Homo sapiens: one gene and its partners. The protein of the gene in region 2 interacts with the protein of the main gene of each other region in a pairwise test. Each region holds a gene or a part of one and is shown on either strand. Other genes may lie near its edges.

Region 1 (3,650 bases), on a different chromosome or scaffold from region 2:
CATGTCTATCTTCCCTGCCCCCTCTATATTGTGCAGGTACATTCTATCTTTAGTCTCAATATGCTTTTCCTCACAGGTATATGACTACTACTTAATTTCCTTTGGAAGGTACCATTAATCTTAGGGAGAGAAGGTATTTTTTGTTTTATTTTAATGCCCCATGAAGCCTTCTGTCCTTCAAGGAGATGACACAAACTTTTCAGATTCCTTTCCTCTCCTAATCTTAAAATAAATTTTCCATTATTACCACATATGAATAAAAACAATGAATTTATCATTCAAATACTATGTCCCTGGATATTATTCATAGCTTCTTCCTATATTCTCCAGTATCTGTAGTTTAACAAAGCCAGTCAATTCAAATGAATCTTCGTACTCTCAAATTCCCTTAAACATTAAAAAAAATACCAACTGAGGTAAATTACTCTAATTCTTTCTTCCCATTCCATGGCAGGGATTAACACTGACATAACTTAGGAGCTGGCAGAGCCCACAGGATGCATGGCTTAAATGTTACCAATGCATGAATATGTGGGAAATCACTAATGAAAACAGTCTGGTTTCATTTCCAATAGTTATAAATATTAAGTGAAACCTCTGTCTTTCTCCAATCCCTTGATACTATTTCTGCTTACTACAGCAACATAAAATAATTCTACTTCTTCATGTTAACTTTATTATGGATATAAAGTTAATTCATAGTTTTTTCAATCACTTCTCTTAGGGCATGATTCCCCAAATGTCCCCATCACTCTCTATGTAAAATCCACTAACTGGATCATGTTTTCAGATTTGAAGCTGAAAGAAGAGCATTAGGGCTACTCTGTCTCCTTTATATGAAAAGACTTAAGCCCCTACTAGTTAACTCCATAACCAGCATCCAGCACTGTCCCTGCATCCACTCTTGGCAATGTGAAAAAACAGAAACAGAATTAATGCTGTTGAAGGAAATGAATACACATACCAAGTGACCATACCCAACTCTAATACTAAGGATAGAGAAGTCATAATGAGGTCAAGAATAAAAAATGGTGAGGTGTCGGGAGGCTGAGGCAGGAGAATGGCGTGAACCAGGGAGGCGGACCTTGCAGTGAGCCGAAATCACGCCACTGCACTCCAACCTGGGTGACAGAGCCAGACTCTGTCTCAAAAAAAAAAAAAAAAAAAAAAAATGGTGAGGTGTGGTGAATTCAGTTTTCTTACATATTGTCAGCAGCATGGTAATTGCTATAACCCACTGGGAAAAAAAATCTCCTAATATGTATCAAGAGCCTTAAATTTTTCAGTAATCCTACTTCTAGGGCTATAAGGAAAAACTCCAAAATACAAGAAATGCTTTAAGAAGAAAATGCTAATATCTTCTTAACATACATAATAATATACATAATATCTATAGTGGCAAAATTGCAAACAACCTTTCTGTCCAATAATATATACATGATGCAACATATGCAGCGATTAAAATATTCAAGAAACTCATTTGGAAAATGTTTACAATATAATGTTAAGTGAAAAATTTGGATATAATACTGTGACTATAGTAAGATCACACTTCACAAAACAAAACAAACTAAAAACTATACTTTTTAAAAAAGAAAACAGAATACACATCAAAATATTATGGTGGCTGTTACTACATGGAAAAATGATGTAATTTTTATTTTTTCTTCTTTCATACTTCCTAAATTTTCTATATTGAATATACAGTTTCATTTTTTTTTTTTGAGACAGTCTTGCTGTGTCACCAGGCTGGAGTGCAGTGGTGCGATCTCAGCTCACTGCAACCTCTGACTCCCTGGTTCAAGTGATTCTCCTGCCTCAGCCTCCCGAGTAGGATTACAGACTCATGCCACCATGCCCAGCTAATTTTTGTATTTTTAGTAGAGATGGGGTTTCACCATGTTGGCCAGGATGGTCTCGATCTCCTGACCTTGTGATCTGCCCACCTTGGCCTCCCAAAGTGCTGGGATTACAGGCGTGAGCCACCGTGCCCGGCCTACAGTTTCATATTTCAAAAATATTTTTCAAAAATGATTATTTTTTATTTTAGCTGCAGGACAAGTGTCAAAGTTGGACAATAACAACAACACAAAGGTAATGACTAGCACATAAAGTTTGGTAACTAAAAGTAAATATACCATAATCACTACTAATAACACCAAAGTCCCCAAAATGATGGAAACTAACGTCTAAAGAACAGATTTCATATGCTCCAGCAGTGAAATAAAGAGTTCCATGTGGGTACTAAACAAAACTGTGTGTTGAAAAGGGGCTGGGAGGTGGACATTTCTACCTTTCACTTCAAGTCATTACAGGAGAGAACTTTTATTCTGCATTTCTGATAACCTTTTCTCACCCCTTTATTAAAAAAATAAATTTTATTGTGTATATTTAAGGTATAAAATATGATATTAGTATATAGTAAAATGGTTCTTACAGTGAAACAAATTAACATATCCATCATTTCACATTCTCAACCCTTTCTTAAATGGATTCCTATAGGAATTATTGTGAATCTGCTGGGTAAAAGCCTGGCATTCACTGTCGTGTTTTTTTAATTTAAACTTTTTTAAAAAGATATTTTAACAGCTTTAGGTTGACAGCAAAATTGAAAGGAAGGTACAGAAGTTTCCCATATATCCCTTGTGCCCCCACACATACATGGCCTCCCTCATTATCACCATCCCCTACCAGAGTGGTACATGTGTTACAATCGATGAACCTATGTTGACACATCATAATTGTCCAAAGTCCACAGATTACATTTGGGTTTGTTCTTGGTGTGGTACTTTCTATGGCTTTGAACAAATGTGTAATATTCATATTGTATCTTTCTTTTTTTTTTTTCCCACTGGAGTCAGGAACATGGTACTGCCACAGGTCAGTGCATACATGCAGTGTGTCCTCTGCTGCTTTTCCTATCTCTTTCCAAGATTTAGACTAAGGCAGGGCCTGCCTTAGCAGTTCCAGCCATCCTCTTCTGCTTCTGAATGGATGGCTGAAATGAACTGCCTGCTCTGCAACTGGTTAAGTATATGAGATCATGGACACAAGGGCAGGAACAAGAGCCATCATTTAAACTTTCTGGATTAAGCCACATTACCCAATTTAGCTTTCATCAGTTATGTCCTAACTTGGTGATGAAAGTGGTATACACCATAACTACTTAACTACTGATAAATAAACCAGTACTCTGATTTCTATTTTGCTATTTGCTGTGTGTGTGCGTGCGCTCACATGTTTGTCTATCAATTCCCTGAAGAGATTTTTTTTTTGAGATAAAGTCTCATTCTATTGCCCAAGCTGGAATGCAGCGGCGTGAACACAGCTCACTGCAGCCTTGACATCCTGGGCTCAAGTGATTCTCCTTCCTTAGCCTCCTGAGTAGCTGGGACCACAGGTGCATGCCACCATGCCCAGCTATCTTTTTTTTTTTTTTTTTCTGAGATGGAGTTTCACTCTTTATTGCCCAGGCAACAAAGTGCAGTGGCGTGATCTCAGCTCACTACAACCTCCACCTCCTGGGTTCAAGTGATTCTCCTGTCTCAGCCTCCTAGGCAGCTGGGATTACAGGCACCTGCCACCATGTCCAGCTAATTTTTGTATTTTTAGTAGAGACAGGGTTTCACCATGTTGGCCAGGCTGGTCTT
Region 2 (3,650 bases):
TCAACATGGCCTTTCTCACACGGCCTTTCTGTGGCACAGGTGTGTAAGGTGAGCTGCACCGGTAACCACTGAGACTGGATTAGCATTTTCCAATACCCTTGCCTTAGCTGACAAAACTTCAAAGCCCTGGGGTCAAGAACAAGTGCAGAGCTGAGATCCACGTGCCGATGTGTACACGGATCTCAGACGTGATCCAGTTACTTAGACAACAGTGGAGTGTGTGGGTTCCCGTTCAGCTATGGTGAGTGGGGTTGTAGAAGTTGGGAGTGAATTCTCACTTGTCTGCTTCCCCTGGAGTACAGTTCGGTGTCCTCTCATGCTACCTTTTGCCTTTTTTATCCTTTGGTTTTGGTCCGTACAGAAAATTGGAAACCACTGAGAAGTACAAAATGAGAGCAAGAACAAAAACCACCCTGAATTTCACCACCCAGAGCCAGAGTATGGGATGAGCACTGGGGCCAGGCCCTCCTCCTCCTCTCTGCAGATGGATTACAGGATTTGCATGTGTTACACTGTAGTGGTGGCATGTGCTAGCCTATAGCCTGTTCCCCCCCGCCAGGGCAGTGTTGACAACACTGTGTCATTCCCTGTAGCTGAGTTGTTACATTGTTTGCACTGTTCCACTGCTCAAATGCTAGTGTTTCCTTGTACCTCTTCCTGCCTTTAAACTTCGGGAAGTTTGAGCCAGAGCAACTGGGACAGCAGAGGTGTGGACAGTGTGGGTTTACTGGCACCAATGTGTGACAACAGACACGGCGAAGCTTCCCAAGCCTTGGTGTCCAGCGGTTTCCTTGGGGTTGATCACATGCTGTGGGGGTGGCTGACTTTTAGTTCCCAGCCCCTCCAGAGGTGGAGTGGACACCTTGTGGCCCCAGGCCCCTGCCCTAAATCACGTACTTAGGCTGCCTGTGGGGCCCAAGGCCCCTACTCTTGGAGATGAGGCCAAAGGCAAGGTTAATTCTTCACTATGCAGAGGGTGTACCCTGTGCCAAGGCTTTTGATGTCTGGTACCAGACACCATTTGAGGAGTAGCCACTGCCTGCAGAGGGTAGGGGAGGCTGGGTCTGGCCGTGTGTGCCGTAGGCCTGGCTGGTGGTGGGGGTGAGCGGGCAGGGAGCTCACTCGTGTCTTGAAGACGCTGACTCTTTCAAGTCTGGACAGTGCTGCGGCTGTGAAGTTCTGAGGTTGCCAGAAAGATGGAGACGTGGGTGGAATGTCACCTTACTTCAATGTGAGCTTGCTGTCCAGAGGTAGTGTCTCACTTTGAACTTGGGAGAGAGGGGATGTCCAGTCTGCCTGCCCGCTGTGTCCTGGTTCCTAACAGTGGAGCTTCTTCACCCTGATGGAAGCGCGGAGGCCCAGGGCTCCTCCAGGGGTTCTGACTCCTCCAGAGGGACGGGGCCTCTGCTCCTGGCATCGTGCATGGCCCAGAGGAGGGAGGAATCTAGAATTCTCTCCACTCAATGTGGTTGCCTGTGGCAGTTGGCTTCTTGGAGGAGGTCATTTGAGGTTGAGAGCTCCATGAGTTGGGACTCGTGGTGGATGCAGATACCGCTGCAGGCTGGGCGGGTGGGGGGCCTCTTCATCCTTGGTTGTAGGTGCTTTGCCAAGAGGGAGATGTCTTGCTGTGTTGACTCGTCTTTTGAAGGTTGTGTGCTGGTGTGATTCTCTTTATGGAAGCACCTGGTAAAACTCTGGGAGGCTGGCATGGTGGCTCATGCCTGTAATCCCAGCATTTTGAGGGGCCAAGGTGAGAGGATCCCTTGAGGCCAGCAGTTCGAGGCCAGTCTGGCCTCAACATAGTGAGATCTCGTATCTACAAAGAAAAAAAAAAGCACAAGTCCAAGAGTGGGCAGTGCATCTAGTTTAAGTACCCCTAATCTGAAATTCACAATCCTCCAAAATCCGAAATTTTGTGAGCATAGGGAAGATGCTCAAAGGAAATGCTCACTGGAATGTTTCGGATTTTGGATTTTTAGGTTAGGGATGCTGAGCCAGTAAGTATTTGCAAATATTCCAAAACCTGAACAAATCTGAAGTGCAAAGCACTTTTCGTCCCGAGCATTTGGGATGAGGGATGGGCAGCCTGCAGCATGTGAGCAAAGAGCAGTGTTTGGCTCTTGGCAGTGCCCCTTTACCTGTGCGTTCACTTTTTTTTTTTTTTTTTTTTGGTGGAGCGGAGTGTCTCTTTGTCACCCAGGCTGGAGTGCAGTGGCACGGTCTTGGCTCACTGCAACCTCCACCTCCTGGGTTCAAGCGATTCTCCTGCCTCAGCCTCCTGAGTAGCTGGGATTATAGGAATGAGCCACCACGCCTGACTAATTTTTATATTTTTAGTAGAGATGGGGTTTTGCCATGTTGGCCAGGCTGGTCTTGAACTCCTGACCTCAGGTGATCTGCCCACCTTGGCTTCCCAAAGCTCTAGGATTAGAGGCGTGAGCCACTGCGCCCGGCCTGCTCTTGGTTTTGAAAGTGATGTCAGCAGTATAACTTCGTGTAGGAAATGTTTGCCTTAGGTGGTGTGGAAGATGGACCATGTGATTTGATGCAGTCCAGGCAGCAGATTACAAAATCCCGCCTCGATGGTGTGGCTTGGGGTTTCTCCTGACCTTGGTGTAGGGCACGCCTTGCTGCCTCCCCTTTCTCTAGTTGAACTGCAGGACAGTGGGTACAGTTGTGAAGTTACTGCCACTTTCAACATCTCTTGGCAAATTCCTCAATAATCTTTTTAAAATTCCTTTAGAATTGTGGGTTTGTGAACTTTTCAGCATCGGGTGGAGTGAAATTGTTACCCTTTCTCTCAGTGAGAAATTGGAGGGGATTATTGTGGCAGGAGGAGTAGGTTTGGGGGATGCGAGTGGGGCAGGGAGAGGGGCATAGGGTGAGTTTTATCAGGAGCTGCTTTCAAGGAGAGGACTAGGGTGAGTGGAACCATGCTGAGCTGGCAGGCAGCACCCTGTGGCTGGTCCGCAAACATGGGGGCTGCTCCCCACACCTGGAGGCTTTTTATGCCTCTTAGATCTCAGACTCTTAGATCTGATGCACCCGCTCCCCAGAAAACCGCCCACGCTTAGCACATCCACCTCCATTCAGTTTTAGAGGTTCCATGTACTCCTAGCCTCTCTGCATTTCACTGAGGCCCTGCACCGCTGCAGGATGCCCCTGAGCTGGGCGAGACCCTAGGCTCTGTCCCATGGTTGCTTTGTTACTGTGCTGCTGCTGGGAAGCTTCCTGTTGAAGGGTTTTGAGGCGTAGCCAAGATGGAAGTTGTGGGCAGCAACGATTCTTTCCCAGGTAGCAGTTTAGAACCGCAAGGGACGGAGGGCCTGCCACCTGGGCAGTCAGGAGACTCTTGGCCCGAGGGACTGAGGCCAGGTTTTCCAAGCCGAAGATGAGGACACAGGGTGACGAGTGATACATTGATTTTGACATGTGTGTTTATGAGGGAGAAATCCTCCCAGTGGAGTCTGTGTTTCCGAAAACAACTGTGAGAGCCACGGCAGCACGTGGGAAAGGCAGAGCCAGAGAACCATCTGATTCGCTCTGCCCAGGGGGTGGAGAGAGAGCACCTGGCTGCTGGAGTGTGGGTGTGGATGGTGCCTGGTGTCCTCAGTGCCCTGTTGGGGCTGCCCAGGCGGCTCTCTGGAGGG
Region 3 (3,650 bases), on a different chromosome or scaffold from region 2:
TCTCCCTTCCCTGCTTCCCCCCAACCCCCCTTCTTTTTCTCATCAAGGTAGAATGTTCTCTCTGCCACGTTTGTAAATTGCAGAAGGAGGAACAGAATGTTGGGCTGTTTTCCTTTTTCCTTCTGCCTCCTCAGTCCCCAAAGAGGATACACAGCTGCAAGGAGCAAACACAGACACACTGAAGCTTTTGATTCCTCTCCTTTTTTTTCCTTCAAGACCCTCCAGGATGGATTCACTTTCTGCTTTGGGAAATTAAGTGGCATTCACGTGGGGGAGGGGGAGTAACTGCTTTTATTAGCTCCAGAAAATGGTCAGTGTTCAGTCTGTAACTAGGAATTAATTATATATAATCACTCAGTAAACTTTCTACAGAGTTTTTCTAATTGCTGAGCCTGATCATAGTTAGCCCGTTGGCGCCAAGTCCAGTTACTTTTATAATTAACAGCTCAAAGATTTGAGTCAGAAAGAAACAATTGGGGGCCTCTTGGATTATAAATTAGGGATGAAAACAATAGCTTTTTTTCCTTTCTTTCTTGTCATCCCTTTTATTTTCAACAAAACATTTCCCCTTTTCTTTCCCTGGGAGAACCAGTGGGGAGACTGCATCAGGTCTTAAATAGGATGAGGGGGGAGACACTTTTTAGGAAGTGGGGTGACAGTAACCTAGAAAACCCTGGAGGCAAAGGTAGGTTTTTAAAAGTCCAGCCACTTGCAACGCGTGATGTCTTTGTTTCTTTTGCCCTCTTTCCCCTTCTCTCTCCTGTGGCAGAGGCAGCAGACATTTGTCAGCCTGGGAACCCTCAATCTGGCTTTGCCTCTGGTTGACTCTGGAAAGAAAGATACATTCAAAGGGGCCTTCGCTACTGCACAGCAGAGATTTAAAAAGGGAATATGTTTCAGAACCCTTTGGTTACTCTTAAAATGCAAGATCTGAGCAAGGGTTCACCCTTGGCTTCAGGTTGCTAAGGTTATGGTCACCCTCCCCGCTACTTCCCACTCTCCTTGCAGACAAACAAACAGGCAGTGGCCATGCCAGCTCTGCAGCCAGTGTGCTGCCAGCCTGTCCCCCCCATCCCGATTACCTTACCTACCGGCCGGCGGGGGCCAGTGGCCCGTCCTTGCCCTGGCATGGCCTTGGGCACTGTGCCCTCCTTTCTCCCCTGGAGCTAAAAAGCAGTCACCTTGAAACTCCTCACTCCCAGCACCAGAGGAGTTCTGAGGCCAATGCTCAGACCTGTAACAGTAAATGACGTTATCCACTCAGGCTGTTAGTTCGGCCTCTGAAAGCGGGTTTTGCAAAACCCATTGTTAATTCTCAGGCTCTGTTGGGGGTGGTCAGAAATCTAATTTGTGAGTATCCTGTGCATTGGATAAGGGAATGTTTTCCTTGTGTTTCTCCTCTGCAGACTCGGATTGTCTTTCCTTGATGTTAACTGTCTTAGGACTGGCTGCTTCAGAGGGCTGGGTATTTGGTGGCTGTTTGCAGGCTTATAAACAGCCTTTTTATTTTACCTTTGCCGTAGACTGAGGTGCAGCCCTTTAGCTTGGCTTTTCAGATGCCTGCTGTCCTTGAAGCACTTTCATTTTACCTAGCGCCTTTTTGGTATGGATGCAAAGCTGGTTTCTAATAGACTGAGAAGAGAAGGGGGACCGGGCTTCCTCCTTGCCTTCCCCCAGGCTGCTCCCTGGGAACATTTTTGTGTTTGCACAGACACCTGTCCGTCTGCAGTTTGTGCCACGGGGCTGCACGATTCCTAACCTTCTACCCACCTAATTTGAGGGCAAGGGGGCCTCATCACAGAGCCTCATGTTGAAGGCTCAGGATCTACAAGAGAAGGCTTTTCCTTAGGAACCTGTGACTTCACAAACTCTCCCTGTCATTGCAGAGTTTTTTTTAAGCTTCTAAACGTTGGGTTGTTGGTGTCCTTTGGTTCAGCTTTTCCTAGTTCTGGTATTTAGGAAGGTGGCTTTGAAACTCGCAGGGCTGCTTAAACAAGAGCTACAGCTATTGAACAAACTGCTACCATTTTAGCTTCAACACAGGAATGAGGCAGTGTTGCCAGACGCCATTTTAAGAATCCTGCATAAATAGCTTAGCTACCGATGACTCTGCCTGTTTTAGGTGAGTGCTTATATAAAGCTGCTCTGCTAACCATTCCCCCCCACCCCAATTTCTTAAAAAATTAATTGTAGATTTAGGGAAGCATGGTTTTTAATTTTGATGTTCACTATTTTGTAATCTAGAAGAGGAAGATGTTATGCCTTGGGGATTAAATATTTCTTACAGCCTGGACCATTTTGGTATTTTGAATGAAAAGTAAAAACCAGGAAAAGTCCTTTCGAATGATGCATGATTCTTGAATTGCTGTGCGATGATCCTCATCTGTAGAACCAGAGTCTTGTGCATGTTGGTTATATATTCTAGATGGCTTAGATACTCTTCTTTAAAAGTCAAATAGTAGGGGCACTTGGGGAAAAGAAATATGTGGGCATTGTGTATTCAGGCATTTTTCTGTCAAAACTAGATGCTTTCTTTTTTCTCTCTCTTGGAAGTGTTGAGGAGATGAGATTCCTGGGAATTACGGACCATCCCTGAGTCCTCAGAATTAACAATCAGAAGGCTTAAAGCATCCTGGAGGTGCAGTAGTTCATCTGCAACTTTTAATTGCTCTTTTTTCAGTGCATGCAGGTTAAGAAGTAAGCATAGGTTTTCTTGCTCAGGCACTGGGGGAGAAATCTTTTATTCTTTTTGGGATGGGATGGGGTGGTCTTGGTTATCTTTGCAGGTACTGTTATTTCTTTGAATTGCCTCAAATGTATCAGTTTGTGAAATCTGCAGGCAAATGACTTGGGTAAATGTGAGTGTAAGAGGTGGTGGTGTATACAATGTATCTAACTAGTTGATGGTGTATTTTCCTATTGGAGTGAGAAATTGTTTGCTTTTCAGCTAATTTTACCCTTTTCTGTAGCGGGCCCCCAGTTTCCTCAACAGACCTTTAAAGGGAAAAAAGTAATGTCAGTTTGAAACAAGAGCTTGTTGTCCCATTGTTTTTGATTTAAATCATCAGGGTTGCTGGAAGCTAGCAGATATGGAAGGAAATAAGCTGTCTATGTTCTAAGACTTTAATGTGTTAATGACAGAAGTTCAGAGTATTTTCTCCAGATGCAGCTGCCTTTTCTTTTTAAGAATTATTTGACTGTTTTTTTTCCCCCAAATGACTGAACAGTTCTTAACCTAAATTGACCAACATCAGTGGGGCAATTCAGACAGGTACAGATCTTTTCTTGCGCCTACTTTTGATGTAATATTCATTTTTTTTTCCTAATAACATACTAGTTCTTAACACTAAATCAAAAAAAAACACACACACACACACAAAAAAACCGAAATCAGTGGTGTAGGAAAAAGGAAGTCCCTTTAGATGTGGCTATTCAAAATGACTAATTTTGCATTCTGGTCTTTGCTTTTGTAAATGAAGTTTTTTTTTTTTTTTTTTTTTTTTCTCCTTTTAATGCATAGACACTGCAGTTTCCTTTAGTCAAATACAAGTTAATTGTGTGTGTGAGTGTGCGTGCATGTGTGTGCACGGGTTCCTTTTGAAAGGATGGTTTGCTGATCTGTGAAAAAGATGGTTTTCTTAAATTGTTGT

The links.
Region 1: the proteins of WDR4 (region 2) and REV3L interact in a two-hybrid assay, tested with the Homo sapiens proteins (one large-scale study listed by BioGRID and IntAct).
Region 3: the proteins of WDR4 (region 2) and ZMYND8 interact in a two-hybrid assay, tested with the Homo sapiens proteins (one large-scale study listed by BioGRID and IntAct).

What each region holds. Positions count from the first base shown.
Region 1 is NC_000006.12:111,368,134-111,371,783, forward strand, and holds part of REV3L (DNA polymerase zeta catalytic subunit), read right to left. Parts: intron 1-3,650. UniProt on the Homo sapiens protein: Catalytic subunit of the DNA polymerase zeta complex, an error-prone polymerase specialized in translesion DNA synthesis (TLS). Lacks an intrinsic 3'-5' exonuclease activity and thus has no proofreading function.
Region 2 is NC_000021.9:42,865,914-42,869,563, reverse strand, and holds part of WDR4 (tRNA (guanine-N(7)-)-methyltransferase non-catalytic subunit WDR4), read left to right. Parts: intron 1-3,650. UniProt on the Homo sapiens protein: Non-catalytic component of the METTL1-WDR4 methyltransferase complex required for the formation of N(7)-methylguanine in a subset of RNA species, such as tRNAs, mRNAs and microRNAs (miRNAs).
Region 3 is NC_000020.11:47,350,182-47,353,831, reverse strand, and holds part of ZMYND8 (MYND-type zinc finger-containing chromatin reader ZMYND8), read left to right. Parts: exon of another isoform or gene 1-827; intron 828-1,091; exon of another isoform or gene 1,092-1,271; intron 1,272-2,082; exon of another isoform or gene 2,083-2,122; intron 2,123-2,553; exon of another isoform or gene 2,554-2,638; intron 2,639-3,650. UniProt on the Homo sapiens protein: Chromatin reader that recognizes dual histone modifications such as histone H3.1 dimethylated at 'Lys-36' and histone H4 acetylated at 'Lys-16' (H3.1K36me2-H4K16ac) and histone H3 methylated at 'Lys-4' and histone H4 acetylated at 'Lys-14' (H3K4me1-H3K14ac).